Linked DNA regions of Homo sapiens: region 1 is linked to region 2. Evidence: fine-mapped expression QTL. A gene starts in region 2. The other region holds a variant in brackets. All regions are shown on one strand. Distances are between the middles of the regions. Region 1 holds the start of LTA4H (leukotriene A4 hydrolase). Region 2 holds the start of HAL (histidine ammonia-lyase).

What was found. PIP is the estimated chance that this variant, and not a neighbour inherited with it, causes the effect. A credible set is the group of variants that fine-mapping cannot tell apart.
Region 1: its variant is the best candidate, but not a certain one, in a credible set for the expression of HAL in monocytes (Schmiedel 2018, PIP 0.73).

What each region holds. Positions count from the first base shown.
Region 1 is chr12:96,027,157-96,040,399 of GRCh38, reverse strand. It overlaps LTA4H (leukotriene A4 hydrolase), which reads left to right and starts at 4,813. Exons shown (of 19, transcript NM_000895.3): 1 at 4,813-5,039; 2 at 11,215-11,345; 3 at 12,836-12,956. The coding sequence starts at 4,881. TRD-GTC2-8 (tRNA-Asp (anticodon GTC) 2-8) reads right to left here and starts at 4,379; the gene lies at 4,308-4,379. RefSeq lists enhancers at 4,055-4,104, 4,125-4,174, 4,615-5,034, 5,625-5,714, 7,349-7,518 and a silencer at 5,085-5,184. The variant G/A (reference allele first, on the strand shown) is at 7,463.
Region 2 is chr12:95,992,388-96,000,387 of GRCh38, reverse strand. HAL (histidine ammonia-lyase) reads left to right here and starts at 4,044. Exons shown (of 21, transcript NM_002108.4): 1 at 4,044-4,310; 2 at 4,397-4,724; 3 at 5,395-5,455; 4 at 5,563-5,590; 5 at 6,224-6,298; 6 at 6,390-6,462; 7 at 6,550-6,616; 8 at 6,900-6,937; 9 at 7,583-7,708. The coding sequence starts at 4,478. It overlaps LOC102723340 (a long non-coding RNA gene), which reads right to left and starts at 3,906. Exons shown (of 4, transcript XR_945237.4): 1 at 3,758-3,906; 2 at 1,961-2,057; 3 at 128-297. RefSeq lists enhancers at 1,637-1,696, 2,143-2,437, 3,662-3,831.

The DNA.
Region 1 (13,243 bases), 37 kb before region 2:
AAACATGGAAGGTTTTACTACTAAGGATGAAAAGATATATAGGTATTAGAAGACAACTAATGATCTCTATCATGCCAGATGTATAACCTGGAGAGGAAAGAAGAAAGGCAGATTATTGAGGAGTGTGTGAGGGCACTGCATTAACTTGTAGGACTTTGTACCTTCAGAATTGTTCTTTCCCAAACACATCTCTACTTCTGGCCCCACGCCTTGATTCCTGCTAAGTCCACCTGAAAAATCTGCCCACCTCCCACTCCCCATGCTCAATCCTACCATTTTTCCTATTAATATTCGGCTCATCCTTCAAATCCCATCTCAAATGCTATGTTAATCATGACGTTATTCTTGACTTTCTCCAAAGGGATAGAACTTGTCCCTCTAGAATTTCATGTATAGTTTTTCTAGGGCCTTAGTCTCCTCTTAACACCATGTTGTCTTAGGTCATTAGTACAGCTGGGTACTAGAGTATAAATTATCCAAGAGGTAAGACAGAACCTTCCCCAATTATTTTCTAGGTAGCACAGTGTAGTAGAATGCATCTAATAAATATCTGCAAATTACATCGACTATTTCAAGAAAGGAAAGGTATATGTAAAGGAAGGGGAGAAAACAATGTAAAGTCTTTTTGCCCTTTTAAGGGAAGCATTTGTGCAACAATTGAAATTTCCCGTAAATGCATTTCAAAACATATCTTTGCTAATGTTGCCATTCCTTTTTAGAGGCCTAATTTGGTGTGACTTGTTTTGCTGTACAAACCGTGGTTGCTTCTCACTTCCCAGGTTGTCCTAAAAGCTCTTGCTAACACAACAAGGAAAAATAACATTACAGTGGTTAAAATAGACAAAAGCCAACAGCAATAATCATATTAGCTAACATGTAACAAATGCCCAATCTGTTTCAATCACAGTGCCAAGCAGTTCCCATACTTTATCTCATTTCATCTTTTCAACAACTGCACGGGCCACAGGTGCCTCAATTATCCTGAGGGGATTGAGGGATTAAGTAACTTTTCCAGGTGAATAGCAGGGCTGGAATTCTTCCTGTTCATATGGCTCTATAAATATAGGTATTATTTCTTTTCATAATATTTTATATAGATCATCTTTTCATCTTTAAGTCTCCTTTGGTAACTAAACCCTGATATTACCCTTCTTTTATTATTATTATTACTATTATTTGTAGAGACAGGGATTCACCACATTGCCCAGGCTGAACTCAAACTCCTGGGCTCAAGCAATCTGCTTGCCTCAGCTTCCCAAAGTGCTGGGATTACCGGTGTGGGCCACTGTGCCCAGCCTTACCCTTCTTTTATAGATGCAGTGGAAAGCCTCATTTTTTGAAGCATTCTCAATTCCCCATTGGATATCAATAATACTCCAATTGCTTGTAAATTGCAAATTTTGTACATTCTATATTTGGGGTGAGTGGTATCTCAGAAAACAATTCCTACTGTAATTTATTTTTTGATGAATATATTAATGGAGGAATTTATTTGTGGTTGTGTGTGGATATTTTTATTTAAACACAAGTGGCATAAACTCTGTGGGTTCCTGGTAATCAATAATAGAAGATGATGATAATGACGTTCTTATTAAAACAAACTATCCTTTCTCCATACTAGATAAATAAGATGATTTGACTGTGTATTATTTGACTAAATGAATTCTATGTTATCTATTGTATTTGTCACCCTAGATTTGGTGACCTCAAAAAATGTTTGCGGCTCTGTGTGGTGGCTCGTACCTGTAATCCCAGCACTTTGGAAGGCCAAGGCAGGTGGATCCCTTGAGCTCAGAAGTTTGAGACCAGCTTGGGCAACATGACAAAACCCCATCTCTAAAAAAATATAAAAATTAGCCAGGCGTGGTGGCGGGCGCCTGTAGTCCCAGCTACTTGGAGGCTGAGGCACGAGAATCGCTTGAGTCCAGGAGGTTGAATGTGCAGTTACCCATGATCATGCCACTGTATCCAGCCTGGGCAACAGGACATTTGCCAAAAAAATCCGAAAATGCAAATGTTGATGACAAATTCTTACACCCTATGAATTAGGACCTATGCATGTGTAAGGTATTAGATTTCATAGTTTGGGATTTTTTGGTTTTATTTTGTTTTCCTTTGGCTTGCAGGGGCCAACACAAGGATATCCAGAAATATAGCAGTTTTTTGTTGTTGTTGCTGGAGCTAAATTTCGTCACTTTTGATAGAGAATTGAACCATACCAGCATGCTAAACCCATCAACTATCCCTCACACCTCTGAAATCTTTACTTTCTTCTTCTCTACCTTTTTGCCTCTGAGTCGATCCTTCTGCAGAAACTTTCCTCTTCTCCAGAAGCCCTTTCACCTGTATATCTAAACATGTTAAAGTTTTCTCTTGCCTTAAAAAGCAAACATTAAAAAAATTCTTTCTCGGCCGGGCGCGGTGGCTCACGCCTGTAATCCCAGCACTTTGGGAGGCCGAGGTGGGTGGATCACGAGGTCAGGAGATGCAGACCATCCTGGCTAACACGGTGAAACCCCGTCTCTGCTAAAAATACACACACAAAAAATTAGTCGGTCTTGGTGACGGGCGCCTGTAGTCCTTGGAGGCTCAGGCAGGAGAACGGTGTGAACCCGGGAGGCGGAGCTTGTGTGAGCCGAGATTGCGCCACTGCACTCCAGCCTAGGCGACAGAGCGAGACTCCGTCTCAAAAAAAAAAAAAAAAAAAGCTTTCTCAATGCTGCATTCCTCTCTAGCTTCCCCTTTATCTTCCCTTCTCACATTGGCCAAGCAACTTGACAGTGGTTTATGCTTCACCTCCCTCTTCTCTTCATTGCTCAATCCACTACTCTCTGGCTTCCATCTTCAACCAAATCACGACAGTCAACAAAATCACCACCTTCCCCATTCTCACCCCACTGCCAAATCTAGAGAATTTTCACTTCTTACTTCGGTGGTCCTCGGGACTGCATCTGGCATTGTTGGTTGGCTCTTTCTGGTTTATTTCATGGGTTTCTCTTCCTCTAGCCCTTTTTAAAACAATAAATTCTGGTGTTCTCTCAGCTTCCAACCTGTTTTCATTACCCTTCTCTTTACACACTCTTCTTGGGTTGAGCTTACCCACTGTCATAATTTCATCCACCACGTTATGTGACGTGGTCATGTCTACCTGGCACTTCCCCAGAGCTGTGGACTTAAATATCCAAGTGACTCATGGACATCTCCACTTCCACTCCCATAGGTTCTCAAATTTCATATGTCCAAAATTGAATTTAGCATCTTCCCCTTAAATCTGTCTGATTTAGTTTGAATATATGTCCCTACCAAATCTCATGTTGAATTATAATCTCCAGTGTTGGAGGTAGGGCCTGGTGGGAGGTGTTTGGGTCACGGGGGCAGAGCCCTCATGGCCTGGTGCTGTCCTCGCCACAGTGTCTTGTGGGATCTGATTGTTTAAGTGTGTGGCACCGGCCCCGCAATCTCTTGCTCTTGCTCGGGCCATGTAGAGGCCTGCCCCTTCTTCACCTTCTGCCATGATTGTAAGCTTCCTGAGGCCTACCTGGAAGCATACTGGAGCTATGCTTCCTGTACAGCCTGCGTAACTGTAAACCAATTAAACCCCTTTTCTTCCCAGTCTCAGGTATTTATAGCAATGCAAGTACAGCCTAACATACTGTCCTCTTCATATAGACTACTACCTCTGGTTAATGACTAGCCAGCCACTGAAGCCGAAAGCCTGGGCCACCTTCGTCTCCTCTCAATCTGTGAATCCACTTATATAAGTATTCCTTCTATTCATTCCTTCCTCTCTATCCTAACTTACTACTTACCTATGTCAGGCCCCCAGCATCTTCTGATTGAGCCATTTTAATAGTTTCCTAAATCTCCTGCTAATGGTTTTGATACCGCATTTTATAACATGAGTCTGACCATGCTTTATCAGTCGCCTGCTGAAAACTCTTCAGTGGGTCCCCCATTAATGCACCCAGGATTAAAAGGCCACCTATTTAAGGTCCTTCGAAACCTAGCCTCTTCCAATTTTTCCAGTTTTAATTTTGAGGCCCCACCCTAAAGGCAAGGCATCCTTCAATCCTCCTTCACCTGCCACAAAGGCCCCAGAGCTGAGCTAGATGTCCCAGCTCTGTACTCCCATTGCGACCAGTGCATAACTTTTATAGAAATTCATTAGTTTCTAAGATGGGAATGTTGGCTTTCTCCGTTTGAGAGATGCAGGTTCTGGGGATATACATAATAAACACTGAAACTGACAAAACAACTGTTTAAACCTTGAATTACTTACAGCTAAAAACAAAAAACAATTACTGTGCCTCCCCGTCGGGGAATCGAACCCCGGTCTCCCGCGTGACAGGCGGGGATACTCACCACTATACTAACGAGGAACCGCACGAAAGAAAGCCTTCTGATAGGCCTTTTCTACGTTTTTGCTCCGCCCCGCCCTCGCTATATGCAAACACCAATGAACCTGATTTTCTTACGTTTGCCACCACAGCTTCCACGAAAGTTGAACAGAGCCAAAATGGTAGTGTTCAGTTTTATCTCCCCCTCCATTCTCATCATTTCCCTTCGGCCACCCTTCTAACTGCCCCTACTCCCCTCCTCTTCTTCAGCTCCAGGAGCACGCTTGGTCCCCCTCAACATCCCTAACACACACGCTCCCAGGTAGCCAAGCGCCCGCTTGCCGCGCGGCACCATGGAACTTGTAGTTCCTTCACCCATCCCCCAACGCTCGTCTGACTTTAAGAAACTTCCTTTCCCGGCGTGCACCGCGAATCCCTCCTCCTCTTCTTTACCTCTCTCCCTCCTCCTCAGGTTCTCTATCGACGAGTCTGGTAGCTGAGCGTTGGGCTGTAGGTCGCTGTGCTGTGTGATCCCCCAGAGCCATGCCCGAGATAGTGGATACCTGTTCGTTGGCCTCTCCGGCTTCCGTCTGCCGGACCAAGCACCTGCACCTGCGCTGCAGCGTCGACTTTACTCGCCGGACGCTGACCGGGACTGCTGCTCTCACGGTCCAGTCTCAGGAGGACAATCTGCGCAGCCTGGTACAGTGGGGCGCCTGCCCAGTGCCCGCCTCTCCCGGGCTCCCTGCCCCTCGACCCTAGTCCTTGCGGGCTCCCGGATCTCCGGCTCACCCCGCCGCGGCCCCTGCCTAGCCCCACGTCCCCGTCTGCTCTTCTGTAGCCTCCATCCAACTCATGTTGTGCACTTCAGCCCCCAGATCTCTCACAGCACCCCTTCTCAACCCCGCTTACGCCTCTGCATCCCTTCCCTCAGCCCCCACTTATACGTATGTCTCCTCCGCCCCTCGCCTGGATCCTCTCTCCGAGGTCCCTGGGCACATCCAGCGCCTCGTCCACTCCTCTCAACTCACCCAGCCCTTAGGTGTCATCTTTGCAGTAGCCCCCATAATTTTAGTTCCTGGCTCTAATTACTCCATGGCCTCCCCATTGCTTCGGCCTGCGGCCCAGAACCCCCTTCTTCAGGCCCCAGACTTTTCCCAGCCCCCTGGGCACCTTCCTCAGTCAACAATCTCACCCAAGTCTCAGATCCCATGTCCTGTCGATCCCTGATCCCACGGTTGCCTCCCGGGAACACTTATTTCAATCCACAGGTCTGCAGGGCACCACCCATCCGTCTCCCTCCTAGTTCCCTGGATCTCCCTGCTAGTCGTTCTCAAGCCTCTTAGGATTTCCAGCCCCGGCCGGGCAGGCCTCTTCTTTCCGCCCTACTTTGAAACTAACAGTCCCTGCTTGCTAACTCTAGGCGCAGCTCTCTCTCTTCAGGGTCCTTTCTACTTTTTAATCTTATCAACTTTCTTCTAATAATTTAAGAACGGATGGGACGTTCAAATTTTCTAAGGATGATTCAATACGCTTTTTTAATAGTTGGTTCCAAGGAGCCAAGTAGTTATTTCACTTAGAAAACACATACTTCTACAAACTCTATAACCATTGGAATGAAGAAAGGTTGTAGATTCATGGAATATTATTCAATGATTTTATCTGTATCATAACCTATATTTAATGTTCTTGCTCAAATTGCCCAATAGTATTTGGTTTATACCTTTCATCTGAAGGTACCTTTCACCTGAAGAATTTCATAGAAGATCATTTTAAAAATAAGAGGGTCATGAAAAGACAGCCAAATTCGGCTTCTTCACCAGGGCAGGATGCTACATGTGTATTTTACACAGTGTAGCATGGTGAAATCTACTAAAGCACATCAATAAGCAATCAGATCAGATCGGGCAGATAAGAATTGGTGGCTTTCAGGCCTCTTTTTCCTACTTGTGTAGGAAGGATCTGAATTTTGATTTCATTAATATGAACTAATAAGTACTTACTTTCTTACTCTTCATCCCTCAACATTTTGCTAAACTGATTGATTTGAAAAATAGGTCGATTCCTCTATGTACTGATAGGTAATCAACAAAAGTACCATAAGAAAGAAAATTAAGATATTATAAGCAGGAAGGCATCTATTTCCTTGCAGATCGCACTTTGGTCTTCTTGAAGTACCATGCTATCTTTAATTGCAGTAGCAACTTTGCCTGGGCAGGGCTGAAGTCCTATTTCAATGCAGTTTCAAAACTAAACACCGCATGTTCTCACTCATAAGTGAGAGTTGAACAATGAGAACACATGGACACAGGGAGGGGAACATCACACACCAGGGCCTGTTGGGGGTAGGGGCCTAGGGGAGGGATAGCATTAGGAGAAATACCTAATGTAGCTGACGGGTTGATGGGTGCAGCAAACCACCATGGCATGTGTATACTTATGTAACAAACCTGCACGTTCTGCACATGTACCCCAGAACTTAAAGTATAATAATAAAAAAAGAAAAACCACACTGTGAGACTGCCATATTTGAACATGAGTTTATACGTCCTACATTCAAAAGTACTAGAGATTTAAAAATTAAGCAATTCAGGACACTTGTGTTCAGATGTGAATAATTGCAAACCAAAACCGAGGTCGCTAGTGGAAGAAATTTAAAGAGGTTTTTCTAATATATGAACAGCAAATTCTTCCTTGAATCTTTAGCTGCAACATATATTTCAGAAGAAATATTCCAATTGGTTTAAGATATAATAAAACCTTGACTAAGCCCCAAACCCACTCAAAGCTCTTAGTTAACTGGAAAGTTCTTGTTCTTCACCTTTATTTAAAAAAATTAAATTATAAACTATGCTGATAAAAGTAAAAGAATGAAAATTTTTATAGCTTTTTGCTGCTTAATGTGACCTCACACTTACCTTTGTTTTGTAAAATAAAAACTTAAAAAATTTATTATTTGAAGTTCAGGTGTACTTCAAATGTGCAGGTTTGTTACATAGGTAAACTTGTGTCATGAGGGTTTGTTGTACAGATTATTTTGTCACCCAGGTATTAAGCCTAGTACCCATTAGTTACTTTTCCTGATCCTTTCCCTTCTCCTACCCTCCACCCTCCAGTAAGCCCCA[G/A]TGTGTGTTCCCCACTGTGTATCCATGTGTTCTCATCACTTTTGTAGAATAAAAACTTTATCTCTGTTCTATAAGTAAGCAAGAGTCAGGATGTTTAAATTTTGAAAAGAATGTCCCAATCTAAAAATCTGCTCATTGTTTTTACATTCCCCAAATCTAGAGAAAAGTAAGATTTTAAAATAGTGATTTCTGGTTGGCATGTCTGTTTAGCAAATTAGAGCCTGGAATTATAATAATGTTACATGTTATACAAGGAAGGCAATTTATGGTACAAAATAACATGTTTATAATTGTTTGCTTATTTATGACAAAAGCCTTAGACCAGGAGCTTATCCTTATTAATTAGTTAATTAGTATTTATTTAAAGTTAACTTGTTTCTTTCCTCCACTAGATTGTGGACTCTTGAATGTAGAGACTGTGTTTCATAACTCTTTGTATCTCAGCTTCCTAGTATAGTCTATGTCTGGCATGTAGAGGACATTCAAAAGTTTGATTAATGGATGATTTCAATTAGAAAACAGTGCCTAAGCTTAACATGGGCTACATTGATAATAGTGCCAGCTGTATTTCAGAGGTGAGATGGGAAGACCCAGTGCCAGTGCGGAATCAGGAGAGACGTCATGTCTTCTTTTCCTCTCCGTTCTTAGAGTTTGTGATGTTGAGGAATGCTGAAGGAGACTTAATCGGACAAATTCTAAGCTTTCTAAAATTCTTTTCAAGTTTTGGGTTATTTACACTGAAGTTTGATCCTCCAAATTTATGATAACTTTCATACATTTGTTTCTTTTCACTGAAACCTTCAGAAATGTTTAGGTGTTCTTTTGGTTAGTGGCTCAAGAGGTTTTAGTGCCATGGCCAAGGCAGAAGCCAGCAGTTAACAATAGGTAATTCTGACTGCAAACCATCTTGTTTTCACTAAGTAAATGTCTCAACTGGGAATCAAATCAAGGTGGTTTTTTAGTTTTAGCTTTGTGTTTCACACATAAACCTATTTTTTTTCATCATATCCCTGCACATAGCAAGTAGAAAATGTAAATTTAGACATCATAATGAGGCATAAAGCTTTTTTTAAAAAAACTCTGCTTTGTTCTAGAAAGGACTGAGACTGCTTGAAGCAACATATATAGTATAAGATTAAAAATAATTAAATAATTTGCAGGAAGAGAGAATAGGGATAGGAGAAACAAAACCCATGGCATAAAGCCCTCTATACTTTAAAAGAAGTGGGCCACAGGGTTGACATGGAGCTTCCTACCAGCCTGTGCAAAAAAGGAATCAGATACCTATTCCATGTCAACTGACCAGCTACTGAGAAGTACAACTGCTTTTTAGGGGGATGGAGGGTATTGTTCAAAGAGGATACTGTGAAACATATAAATTATATCCTATAATTAGTAGAGCTGTTGATGCTTAACACGTTTCTTAAAAAGTACTAAATCCAACTTGTCAACAATCCAGTTTTCTTTATTTTTCTTTCTTATTACAGTTTTTGACTATTTTTTAAAAATAACATCGCTGAAATTTGAAGGGGAATTTTAAAAAGTAGTTTGCAAATGATAGTTGAGACTTAGGACTTGAGATAATACAGCTTAAACATTGCATTTTTTGTTTTCTCTTGGTCTAGGACCTGCTTCATGCATTAATTGACACCTAGTGTTTTTGAGGCAGAGTGCTAAACCCTGGGAATACAGACCTAAGTAACATTCTCTGTTTTAGAACCCTTAGTCTAATGGAAAAAGAAATCATTATAATGCAGTACAGTAAGTATTATAGGAAAGGGTAGGGCCAAGAGCTATAACAGACACAGGGGATATCAAAACGTTTCACAAAAAATAGTTGTCACTATGACACTTCTGATTCTGAACAGATTTGGAAAGTTTAGCCAATATAGAAAACAGAATATGTTCCACTGGGAAATGACCCAGTTAATTCATCTATATAAGCATGTGTTATAAACACAAGATACTCAAATCAAGTTTTTAAAACAAGTTAGCTATTCTGAATAGCTATTCAGAACTAGGTACTAGACTATGAAGAGACTAGAGAGGTACTAGAATATGAAGGAGTAACCCTATTATTTTAAATAAGATATAAACCGTATCTTCTACTAATTTAGAGTAAGGATAACAAATGAGGTACCCCCAAAAGAAAGTACCCAGGGGCAGCTGGGAAATGGCTGGTTCTTGGCCTCACATGTAGCCAGGTCAGATTTCAGAAAAGGAAAAAAATAATGCCAGAGGTAGGGAGATCTGGTAGAAAGCAGTTCTGCCAGTCCAGGGCCTGACCTGGGTTAGTAGTGGAAAGAAAGGAAAAGTATGAAGACATTGTGAAAGAACAACTTTTAAGTGGCTGTGTGGGGTTGGGAAATGGGATCAAACCTTAGGTAACTGGAAGAGTTCTTTTAACAGAATCAAGAAATCTGGGGAGAAATCTGATTCAGGGAGTATAAAAATCATTTTTGGAATTTTTAGAAGCCTATTCAATGTGTGGTGCTATGTCCCATGGAAATGTTGAGCAGGCGATTCGACTGAGGTCCTGGGGAGGGAATACAACTGTAGAACTAGAATGGCAGGCATCTTCACAGAGATACTAATTGAAGATGTGGGCATGAGTAAGAGCTAGGGAGTGAAGGATATGGCAAGAAAATCAAAGGACCGGGGCTGGAACATTGGGACATATCCATATTTTTGAATTGGAATAAAGGAGGGGAAAGGAAAAAAACATTAGACAAATAGAGAACCATTTATGATGTATGCGTACAGGCAAAGAAGTGAAGGAAGGGGTTTTAACCAGATGACATAGTCCATAAGGGCTGTGAGTAGACAGAGGTCAAGGTTATTGGACAGAAAAGACTTTGTTGATCGGGGTGGGGGCTGCCCTTTCAATAGCAAGAAGCCAGATGGAAGAAGGGGAAAGGGAGGATGATTAATGAAGAAGTAGAAGTAGTAGTCATAGCAGTCAAAAACTCCCTTGGAGTTTAAGGAAGGAAGGAGGAAAACTAGAATATTTAGTGGGTAGATCCATCAAGTAGAATTTTGTTTATGTTGTTAGGAAACAGTCTTGTGGCATAGGAAGGTTCAAGATTCTAGGACAAGAGATTAGTTGAGAGATAATTAAAGAGTATGATTTGTAGGGCTCAGGATTTTGGGGATAGAAAATACTCTGACACTTGATGTCACTCCTTCATGCCCAAAGCAGTTGTCCTTAATTGGCCATGGCAAGTAGATATGGCCTCCCAATCCTCTGCAGAATCATTTGGTCTGAGTTACCATACCAGGTTGGGCTTTTTCTAGATATACAACCACAGTGATATACAGTTTGCTGATTTGCTTAACGAACATGAAGTTTGAAAGTACATGAGTTCTAGGAGGAAATATATTGTGTAATGTATTGAGGAGCCAGAGTGAAAGAAACTTAAGTTATAGATAAAGTTTTTCATAATAGAGAAAATTTTAGGAGTCAGAAGCAAACATATTTTGATTTAGATTTGACTTTTACTTAAAGCCCAAAATTTGTGTGACTGTCCTAGGGTTATTTAACAATATATATGCAAATCTTAGAACCCAAAAATTTTCAAGATGCTTAGAGTCCCAAAAAATGAGACCTAGACTAGCTTTTGACTCTTCAATTCTTCTAATTTCACTCTGTATTTTACTCTCCATAAGCAACTAGTTGTTGTAGCCTATATCTAATATGAGTTTTTTCTGGTAAATGAAACTATTTTCTTACTATTTAAAAATATTAATTTTAGGTTTTGGATACAAAGGACCTTACAATAGAAAAAGTAGTGATCAATGGACAAGAAGTCAAATATGCTCTTGGAGAAAGACAAAGTTACAAGGGATCGCCAATGGAAATCTCTCTTCCTATCGCTTTGAGCAAGTATGAATGTTATGATCTTTCTCTTTTACAGCTAAATAATGGGGAAACATATTCTTAACTAATTTAAATATTTTTTCTTTTTAAATTTTAGTTTGTAAATATGTAATGATTGGTACACTACTTATCCTGATCTTCTGTTCAGATTAAAGTTGATACAGCAGTTAAAATTATATATACTTAAGATACTAAAAATGTTGTTTGTATATAATACAACAAGGACTTTGGGAACTGTTAGTTTCTAAACGATTCATCCTTTTACTAATATCTAGAGTGATGGTGGGGGCATGCCATCATAAGAAGGCATTTCAAGATAACCTGGGCAGCTTTACAAGTTGCACCCTCCTTGCCCTTGCCCCAGAGGCCAGCTGCATTTATTAATGGGACAATGATAATGCCAAAGATAGAACTGTTACAGTGCAGCAATCTTGGGATAAGTGCTTTAAATGCATTCTTGTATCTAATCCTTACAGTAACCCTGCTGGTATAATCTACACTTAAAGATGAGGAAAGGGAACCTTAGAGAAATAACTTATTCAAGAAAGTGGCAACCAGAATTGTCACACTGGGAGTATATGCCACCTCTTGAGGGGAAAGAGGGTGAAAACTATTGGCCTAGAACAAGGGTGATCTACCCCAGTTGTTCAGAGGCCAGTGTTTTCATGCCTTCTCTTTCCCTTTAAGAGAAGGGAAACACTTAAGTCTAGCTTGTGAGGTAGATGGTATTCACCCCATTCTACAAGGAAACTGTGGCATAGGGAGGTCAAATAATTTCCCCAAGTTTACAGTACCAGTAAGTGATAGAGTCAGGATTCGAACACCAGCAGGGCTGCTGGTCTCTAAACCTCTGCTGTTTCCTTATTATCAGTGCTTCTCAAACTCTCTGGGGTAAAGGACCAATTTCTATCCTCTTCAATCTGTCATAGACTGATACTTTTGTACAATGCAATAAAAATGAAATATGAGGAAGAAGAGATGAAATACAAGCACACATTTTTTATTATTAGATTCAACAGACAAAAATGACTCTAAAAGTTTTGCAATGCTGACTCTCAACTTCTGGTCTTGTCTTGTCCTGGGCCGGTAACAGTTTGCAGACTAGCACTGCTCTGTGTCATGCTGTGGCACCTGCTGCTGTGGTAGTTGAAGCCCCAAAAATGATTTCTTTTACTTTTTCACTCTAATAAAATATTAAATGATATCACAGATGCAAAGTACGTGACACACAACGGGGTAGTCAACCACTGTTAGTTGCCATTAAGCCTTCGCTAGCAGTTAGCATGGGAGAGGTAAAAGGACCCACAGGCTGGCAATTAGGTAGGAAAACTGAGAGGAGACTTACCCACTGAGGATGTGGCATACCTAGAGCTTACTGCCAATCAGTGATGAGAATGCATACTATGTTATTTATATTATTCAGTGTATGTATTATGAGTTTAAATTTTCACTAGATGGAATCATACTCTACTAATATATTTATGTGTTTCATACAGAAATCAAGAAATTGTTATAGAAATTTCTTTTGAGACCTCTCCAAAATCTTCTGCTCTCCAGTGGCTCACTCCTGAACAGACTTCTGGGAAGGAACACCCATATCTCTTTAGTCAGTGCCAGGTAAAAAGGATTCCAGAATGATTTCTGATGCAGAAAATTTCAGCACCTATGGTTGAATGAAGCAAAATGAACAGTGGTTTTATGGATTATGTAGGTTTTACCTAATAAAATGTATTAATTGATCTTATAGAAACATATAAGATGAATTATATATTTTCATTTTATCTTTCACTATTAATACACTCATGCCTTACTTTAAATAAGAAGCTTCTTTCAGTTTGGAAATATGTCCACCTAGATTGGACTCTCTAGGCCTGACTTAGAACTTAGCAGAGAGTAGGTACTCA
Region 2 (8,000 bases):
GGGTTGTAGTGAGCCGAGATGGCGCCATTGCACTCCAGCCTGGGCAATGGAGACTCTGCCTCGAAAAATAAAAAATTAAAAAAAAACCTTAAACATGAATGCTTAGTTGTATTTGCACACCACCTACCTGGTGGACAGCAGATGAACTCCTTACCAGAATGTGTCAACCCTAGCAGGAGCTCTCAACTCCCTCCTCCTGGACCCCTCCGGCTCATCCAGTGGGCTTGTCCTGGTCTCCTGTCCATCAGGGGTCAGATGGCCACCCCAAGCACCAGTCTTTCCCATCCCTCTCACAGTCTGTTCAAAGACAACAAAATAACTTGAACCAAATAAAAGACAAACATAACAAAGCACCCCTGCCAATGCAACGTAGTGCCCCAGGGCATCTCAGCACACATAGCTGTACTAGGTAGAATTATTAGTGTATTAGCTCTATTAGTTAGAATTAATTAGAACCATAGCTGTGTTAGAATTCTTTGATTGCAAGTAACAGCAATCCAAGTGACCAGAAGTCAAAAAGGGAAAAGGAAGATTATTTTAAGGATGCTAGGTATGGGGAGATTATCAGAACCTGGGACGGACAGAAGGGGTCTGATGCCCAGGACTGCAGCACCGTCAGTGCTCCTGTCCCTCACCTCTGCCTCTCTAGTCCACGTTGTACAGGCCGGCCACTCTCCAGCTTTACTGTTACAAATAGCTCTGACCACATGGGGAGGCTATCACAATTCCAAATTCCCAGAGGTGAGACTCTAACCCAGGTTGGGTCCACCTCTGGTCAAATAAATTGTGTAAGAGGAATGGTGTCTTAGAGTATAATTGTTGGCATGGGGTGGGGGTGGGGAGCGGTGTCCTGACCAAATAACCCCTCAAAGTGCTAATGCAGTGACTAAAGTTACAATAGGAGTGAACACCCAAGGTGGGACAGGTATGGAAGAGACATATTCCTGCCTATTCCCGGAATCCTGACTTTTCCCTGGCTCTCACTCTCCCTAGCAGTTTTTGTTTTGTTTTGTTTTGAGACAGGGTCTCACTCTGTCGCCCAGGCTGGAGTGCAGTGGCATGACCATAGCTCACTGCAGCATCAGCCTCTGGGTTCAAGCCATCCTCCCACCTCAGCCTCTGGAGTAGCTGAGACTACAGGCATGCACCACCATGTCTGGCTAATTTTTGTTTTGTAGAGAAAGAGTTTGGCCATGTTGCCCAGGCTGGTCTCGAACTCCTGGGCTCAAGCAATCCACCCGCCTCGTTCTGTCCTCTTGGTCACTTATCTATGCTGCAGTGTGATTCTTTCTCCAGGCTCTGCTCTCCCTTGCCTTCCTTGCCAAGAATACAGAGAAGGGAGTTCAGCTCAAATCACTGGCATAAGATCATGTTCTAAGATTAGACTTTAGCAAATCCATTTACCCAAATACTGCTCTTTAAGGCTTCTGCCCTATGAGCTTACAAGACAAGCTGTAAGTTAATGTCGTTTTTAGTTATCACTTAGTGATACTGAAAGTGAATTGTGACAAGGGATGCTTGAAGGGTGGCATGGAAGGGTGCTGTGAAGAAGGTAGAGGGCGCTAAAGACAAACTTAATCCTGCTTGCTGGTTTACCTAGGGGCCAGCTCGGTGCAGTTCACATTTCTTCAGTTCAGCTAGTAAGCATATGCTAAATGTCTTTGTGCCAGATCGGATATATACATAATTATGGATGAACACAGACAAGTAATTTCCTAGATAATACTAAAGAAGAGCTATGCTAAGGCATCCCAGAGAAGGGCCACTTAACCCAACTGAAGAATTTAGGGAATGCTTCCTGGAGAAGAAAAGGCCTAAACAGGCTTAAGGAGTAAGAAAGATCTAGACAGGCAAAGGAAGTTGGAAAGTGCGTTTCTGGAGAAAGAATAACAAGGAAGACTCTGCTCCACAATGCGTAGGGCCTGAGTTTAGAATCCTCAAACTGCTGGGGGTGACTTACATGGCTGGGAGGTGGTATCACCTGGAAGCTCCTTCCCTCACTAGTCTGATGCCTGGGCTGAAATTACTCAGAAGCTGGTCTCGGCAGTGACAGTCAACTGGAGCATGCAGTAGTTTGGGTTGTTTTGCAGCATGAAGATAGTTAGACCTCTTATTAGTCATCTTTATACAGCTTTATCCATCACCAGACAGTAAGCCTCATGAATGTAGAGCGTGTTTGTTATTTATTTCATCCCCAGCACCTCGCATAGAGCTTGTTACATAACAGGTGTTGAAAAAATATTTGTTAAATGAGTCAAGGAATGAATGGGGGGGGGTGGGGCAGAAGGTTAAGGTGGTTCACATGTGCAGTCCTCAGTTTTCTCACAGATGTAGGAAGTAAGGTCTCCTTCTGAGAATTAGAGGTGGATGTCGAGAAGGTCCTGGCAGAGGGGTCAAAGTTTTGGAAAGTCACTGTGGGCTGGATGGAATAAAAGGGCAATACCATCAAACTATGTGATCACAGGACTTTCTCTATCAGTGTCTTCTGCCTGGGTGAACAGATATGACAGTTTCTTTTAATTTTAAACAGGGTCTTGCTCTCACCCAGGCTGGAGTACAGTGGTATAATCATAACTCATTGCAGCATTGACTGCCTAGGCTTAAGCAATCCTTCCAAGAGATGGCTGTTTTTTGTGATGACTAAGGGGATGGGTGTTATTCCAAGTGTAGACATAAGTTTAGGGATGCAAAGGAATCTCAGAGTGCTTAAGAAAGAGTGGTCCAGTGAGCGACTAGGGACCAGCTTCCTAGGATAGTAAGTGAGGATGCTGGTGGGAAGTGGAGGGATGAAGAGACTGACTGGAGGTCAGGTCCAAGGCTGGCAGTGACTAGAGTAAAAGGGCAGCTGGAAGGTTGTGGTCAGAAGGTGGAATATTGGAATTTCAGATTTCTTAAGTGTGTCAAATTCAGGTCGTGACAGATTCCAGGGTGATTTCTTAAGTGTGTCAAATTCAGGTCATGACAAATTCCAGGGTGCAGTCATGGTGTGGGTATCTGAAGAGCAAGTTTCAATAAGGCTCAAGGAAGGGTAGCTATTTGTACGCTTCCTGGGAAGCTGTCAGCAGATGAGAGGGACTCTGGGTATGAGTATAGGTGTTTTTCTTGAGCAACCATGTCTCTCTTCCCAACAGAAGTCTGATTTAGTGGAAACAGACTTTTCAGGATTTTTCTAGTGCAATAATCAAATCTCTAAAAATTGGCTTACGATGAAAGTGCTGCTTAGTCAAAATAGCATCTGCATATCTTTGATGCCGTAATCATGCTATCCAGAGTTCCTTAATACCAATGGTAATAAGGCGGGTGCAGGGAGCAGTTATCTGTGGTGAAGAAGCTTAATTGGGTGAGGGATATCCATGTGCCAAGATGAAAGAGCATTTATGGAACTTTATAGCTTTATGATTCATACAGAACATTTATAAAGCATTATAGTTACATGGAGTATTGGTGTCCAGATACTAGTAATCACAGACACTTCTATAATATTTCCACTATGCCAGGTGTTGTGTTGAGGGCTTTACATATATGAACTGACTTCATCCTCCCAATAGCCCTTTGACATATATACTATCATCATTACCATTATCTTCATTTTACAGATGAGGCAACTGAGGCCCAGAGAAGTCAAATCACTTGCCCACAAGTCATACACTTAGCAAATGGCAGAGCCAGGATTTGATCACAGGTAAATCCTGCACATACTGGAAGGAGGCAGTTAGCCCCTAGGCCTTCTGATAAGGAAATACAGGGTAATACTCACCTAATCAAGGCTAATAAGTAGTAGAGCTGGACTCTCATCCACGGCTGTCTGAGCCCCTAATCTCCAAGTCAGAGTGGTTCATTTGCCCAGATGACGACCTTTAGTTGTGAAAATGATCTCTGGCCTTTGCAGTCTTCCCTGGTGGAAAGAAAGCTTCAGAAAACCTTACTGGTGACAGGAAGTAGTTGCTCAATACATGTTTGTGGAATAAACAAATGAGTGACGATTGCCACACTCCCAGTGTCACAGTTGGCCCACAGAACACGTTTTACAGTTGAGTAATCTCAGATAAAGACAGGAACATGGTGTTTATAAGCTGCCCTTAATGGCAGAGAACACAGACAGAAACGAGGGAAGAGAGAGAAATTGGGGACCCTGAAGAAAGGGGGCCAGCAGCAGGTAGGTGCCATCAGGGACAAGAACAGCACCTCCCAGGGTGGGAGACCCCAGGCCTTTCTGGCAGCAGGTCTGGATGGAAAGTGGACAGGAGGCTCACCCGTCTGCATCCCCTGCTCCTGCCCCTGCTCGGCTACAAAAACCAAAGGGACAGCAGGTACCTCAATAAATATTTGTCCAATGCATGAATGAGTAAAGGTGAAGGAGGGGGAGTGGTTTGAAAGTCTATTCTCATCCTTCCAGCTGACCACACCCCGGTAGCCACTCCTGCATAAAGCTCTCCCCTCCTGTGACCAGCTGAGGACCTCAGGCTGCAGCGGAGCCATGCCCAGATACACGGTGCACGTACGTGGGGAATGGCTGGCAGTGCCCTGCCAGGACGCGCAGCTCACTGTGGGCTGGCTGGGCCGGGAGGCCGTGAGGCGCTATATCAAGAATAAGCCCGACAATGGTGGCTTCACCTCCGTGGATGACGCGCACTTCCTTGTGCGCCGGTGCAAGGGCCTGGGCCTGCTGGACAACGAGGACCGGCTCGAGGTGGCCCTAGAGAACAACGAGTTCGTGGAAGTGGGTGAGTGGCTGCAGGAGAGGGCCGCGAACGGGTGCGGTTTGGCCTGGCTTAGTCTTTGCAGCATTGAACCCCCACCTCAGGGAAAATGATGAGCAGAGGTCAGGCTTGCCGAGGCTGGCCCTGTGCAGGCACATGCCACGCCTCTGGGGATCTTAAGTCCTCACACAACCCTGTGAGATGGGTAGGATTCTCCTCCACCTCTGATGGAGGAGAAATCAGAGAGGAGGTAACTTACCCAGACTCCAGCAGCTAGTAAGTAACAAAGACTAGACTGGTACTCAAGGCTGCAGGTCTGAATCCCTTTGCAGTGACTGAATCATTTTGAGGTTATTTTGCCTTTCGAAAGAATCCACCCCCACCCCCAGACTGGAGGCCGGCAGCATAGCATCAGTTCAGATTTTGAAGAAAATAAAGCTGGGAATGGGGATGGAAGTGGAATTCTGTCTTGAACTTTCATCTAAACCCCTGGTCTCTGCCCTGACACCTACCTTTCTGCTTTTTGCTCTCCTCCTACATAAAGATGCTAAGACCACATGAAACCATCTGAAGCAGTTTTAAAGCAGCCATTTCTATAGAATTCATGGGCCAATGATGGGCCGTTCCTTGGTTTAACAGGGGGAACATGGCTGTACAATGTGATCTGTAACGAGTCTCCCGTGCATTGTTTTAGTTATAGAGGGTGATGCCATGTCTCCTGACTTCATTCCATCTCAACCAGAAGGAGTTTATCTGTATCCTTTCCCACAGGCTCTTTGGTCTGCTCTGGGGGTGGCTCCTGCAGATGGTGGGGCTGGGGGTTTTTCCACACCACCCTATATGTTCCTTTACCTGGATACAGATACAGCAAGTACCGGGAGCCTGAAAAGGTAAGCTTCAAACCACTTTCTTTTTCTTCAGAAAATTAAGGCCCCTTATTTAAGAGGGAGGAAAGCCAGGAAAACTTCTGAGAAAACACTGTCAATTAGAACAGGGCTGGCCGGGAGCAGTGACTCATGTCTGTAGTCCCAGCACTTTGGGTGGCCGAGGTGGGCAGTTCACTTGAGGTCATCAGTTTGAAACCAGCCTGGCCAACATGGTGAAACCCCATCTCTACTAAAAGTACAAAAATTAGCCAGGTATGGTGGCGTGCACCTGTAATACCAGCTACTCAGGAGCCTGAGGCACGAGAATTGCTTGAACCCAGGAGGCAGAGGTTGCAGTGAGCCATGTTTGTACCACTGCACTCCAGCCTGGGCTGGAGACTCTGCCTCAAAACAAACAAACCAACCAACCACAGGGCTTTATCCAGCTCTGTAGTGGGGAAAGGGGGCTTGGAAAGGCATTATGCTTTTGCACCAATAAGCCTCCTCTTATGCAAGATGCATTTTTATTTAGCATATTCATGTTTCACGCAATGATCAGATCTCTGAAATGTCAGTTTGGTTCTGTTGGAGGTGTCCCTACTCTGGTTAGAATAATCAAGCTGTTCAGACTCACTGAGATCCCCTTCTTTTGTGTAGTACATCGAGTTAGATGGAGACCGTCTGACCACGGAGGATCTGGTCAACTTGGGAAAGGGACGCTACAAAATAAAGGTATGGGGAGGGAGGGGAAAGATGTCCTCTGGCCATTTTTGTTGCCCGTGGAAGTCTTTAACGTGCTCAGTTCTGATCAACATTTTCCTAGCTCACCCCAACAGCTGAGAAGAGGGTGCAGAAATCCAGGGAGGTCATAGATAGCATCATAAAAGAGAAAACAGGTATCTTTTTATCTTTATGTTATAAATATTTTTATAAACAAACAAAAATCCCTGCATTTAATTGCATAATGTCTCTTTTTATTCTAGTTGTTTACGGTATTACTACAGGTTTTGGGAAATTTGCCAGAACTGTAATTCCTATCAATAAGCTACAGTAAGTTTAAAACACACATATGTTCACGTTCCACCTACCCTCATCTTTTAAATATTTTTCAACAAGGGAAATAATTCACATTTGCCCCAATTTACAGATCAGAGGATGAGGCTTGGGTTACCTTGCATGTGAGTTGGTATTGAAAACCCAGGCTGGCTGGTTTCTCCCATTGCCTTCCTTCTGTCCCTCCAAGGATTTGACCATGATTCCCTTCATTTTCCCAGCTGAGGGAACATTTTCTCACTGCAATGTATCTAAGAGGGTTTTTACCTTTCTGTTGCAGGGAGCTTCAGGTCAACTTAGTACGCTCACATTCTTCAGGTAAGTCAAAACGTTGGGTGCCTCCTGGATCTTGTGTGATTAGATGAATAAAGCACAGCACAGTGTGAGTTATCCAGTTATAGTCACAAAAAGCTAGTTTCTCAAAACAGCATTTCAAGAACTAGGTGCCGAGGTGAGAAGGGATGCAGAAAGAATCAGCTGAGCCTCAGAAAAAGAAATGGGCCAGGTGGAGGGATGGGGTTGGTATGAGAACACATGTCCCATGCCATGGAGACACTGTTGCATTCAGGGAAGGAAATAAAGCCTGGAACTCAAAGAATGAGTTAGGATGGGCATAGTGAGATGGGAAAGACTGTCACCAATCAGCACCCATCAGATGGTAAAGAAGTTGTGCTAAGGACTCTGGATGCTATTCTAAAGGTGAGTGGGAGGTCAGGGGTTCACTGAAGCTTCCCAAAAAGGGGAATTGAGAAGGCAAAACTGGGGTCTTAACCTTTGTCAGGAAGATGGGGCTCAGACAAGTCAGACAGGCAGGAGGGAGAGTAGTCCAACTACCTGAGCCGAGAGGAGAAGGTAATAGCAGGCTGGGCTACATATGGGAAAGATTGGAGGGAGGGAGGGCAATTGTCAGGAGACAAAAAGGAGTTTGCTTTTCTTGGAGAAAACATCAATTCTGTTTTGCAGGTGTTGGGAAACCACTAAGTCCTGAGAGGTGTCGGATGCTCTTGGCTTTAAGGATCAATGTCTTAGCCAAAGGATACAGTGGCATTTCCCTGGAGACCCTCAAACAAGTCATAGAAATGTTTAATGGTAATGCAATGGCTCCCTAGACGGAACCTCTGTGGAGGCTGGACATGTACCACAGGGTAGAATTGATTGGCCAGATGCTGAGGAATCACCTGAGAAGACATGAAATAATTGAAATGAGTGGGAAATGCCGTTGGCAAAAAGTAGGATAGTTAGATGGGGGAAGAGGAGAAAGTCGATCAGAGATGCTTACTCCTATGAACTTTAACTTATTCTGCAAGACCCTTTCCCTAGCATTTGTCATCTTCAAGACTAGAACAGGACTCTTAAGTCTGCCCTTACATTCAAGCCTGCC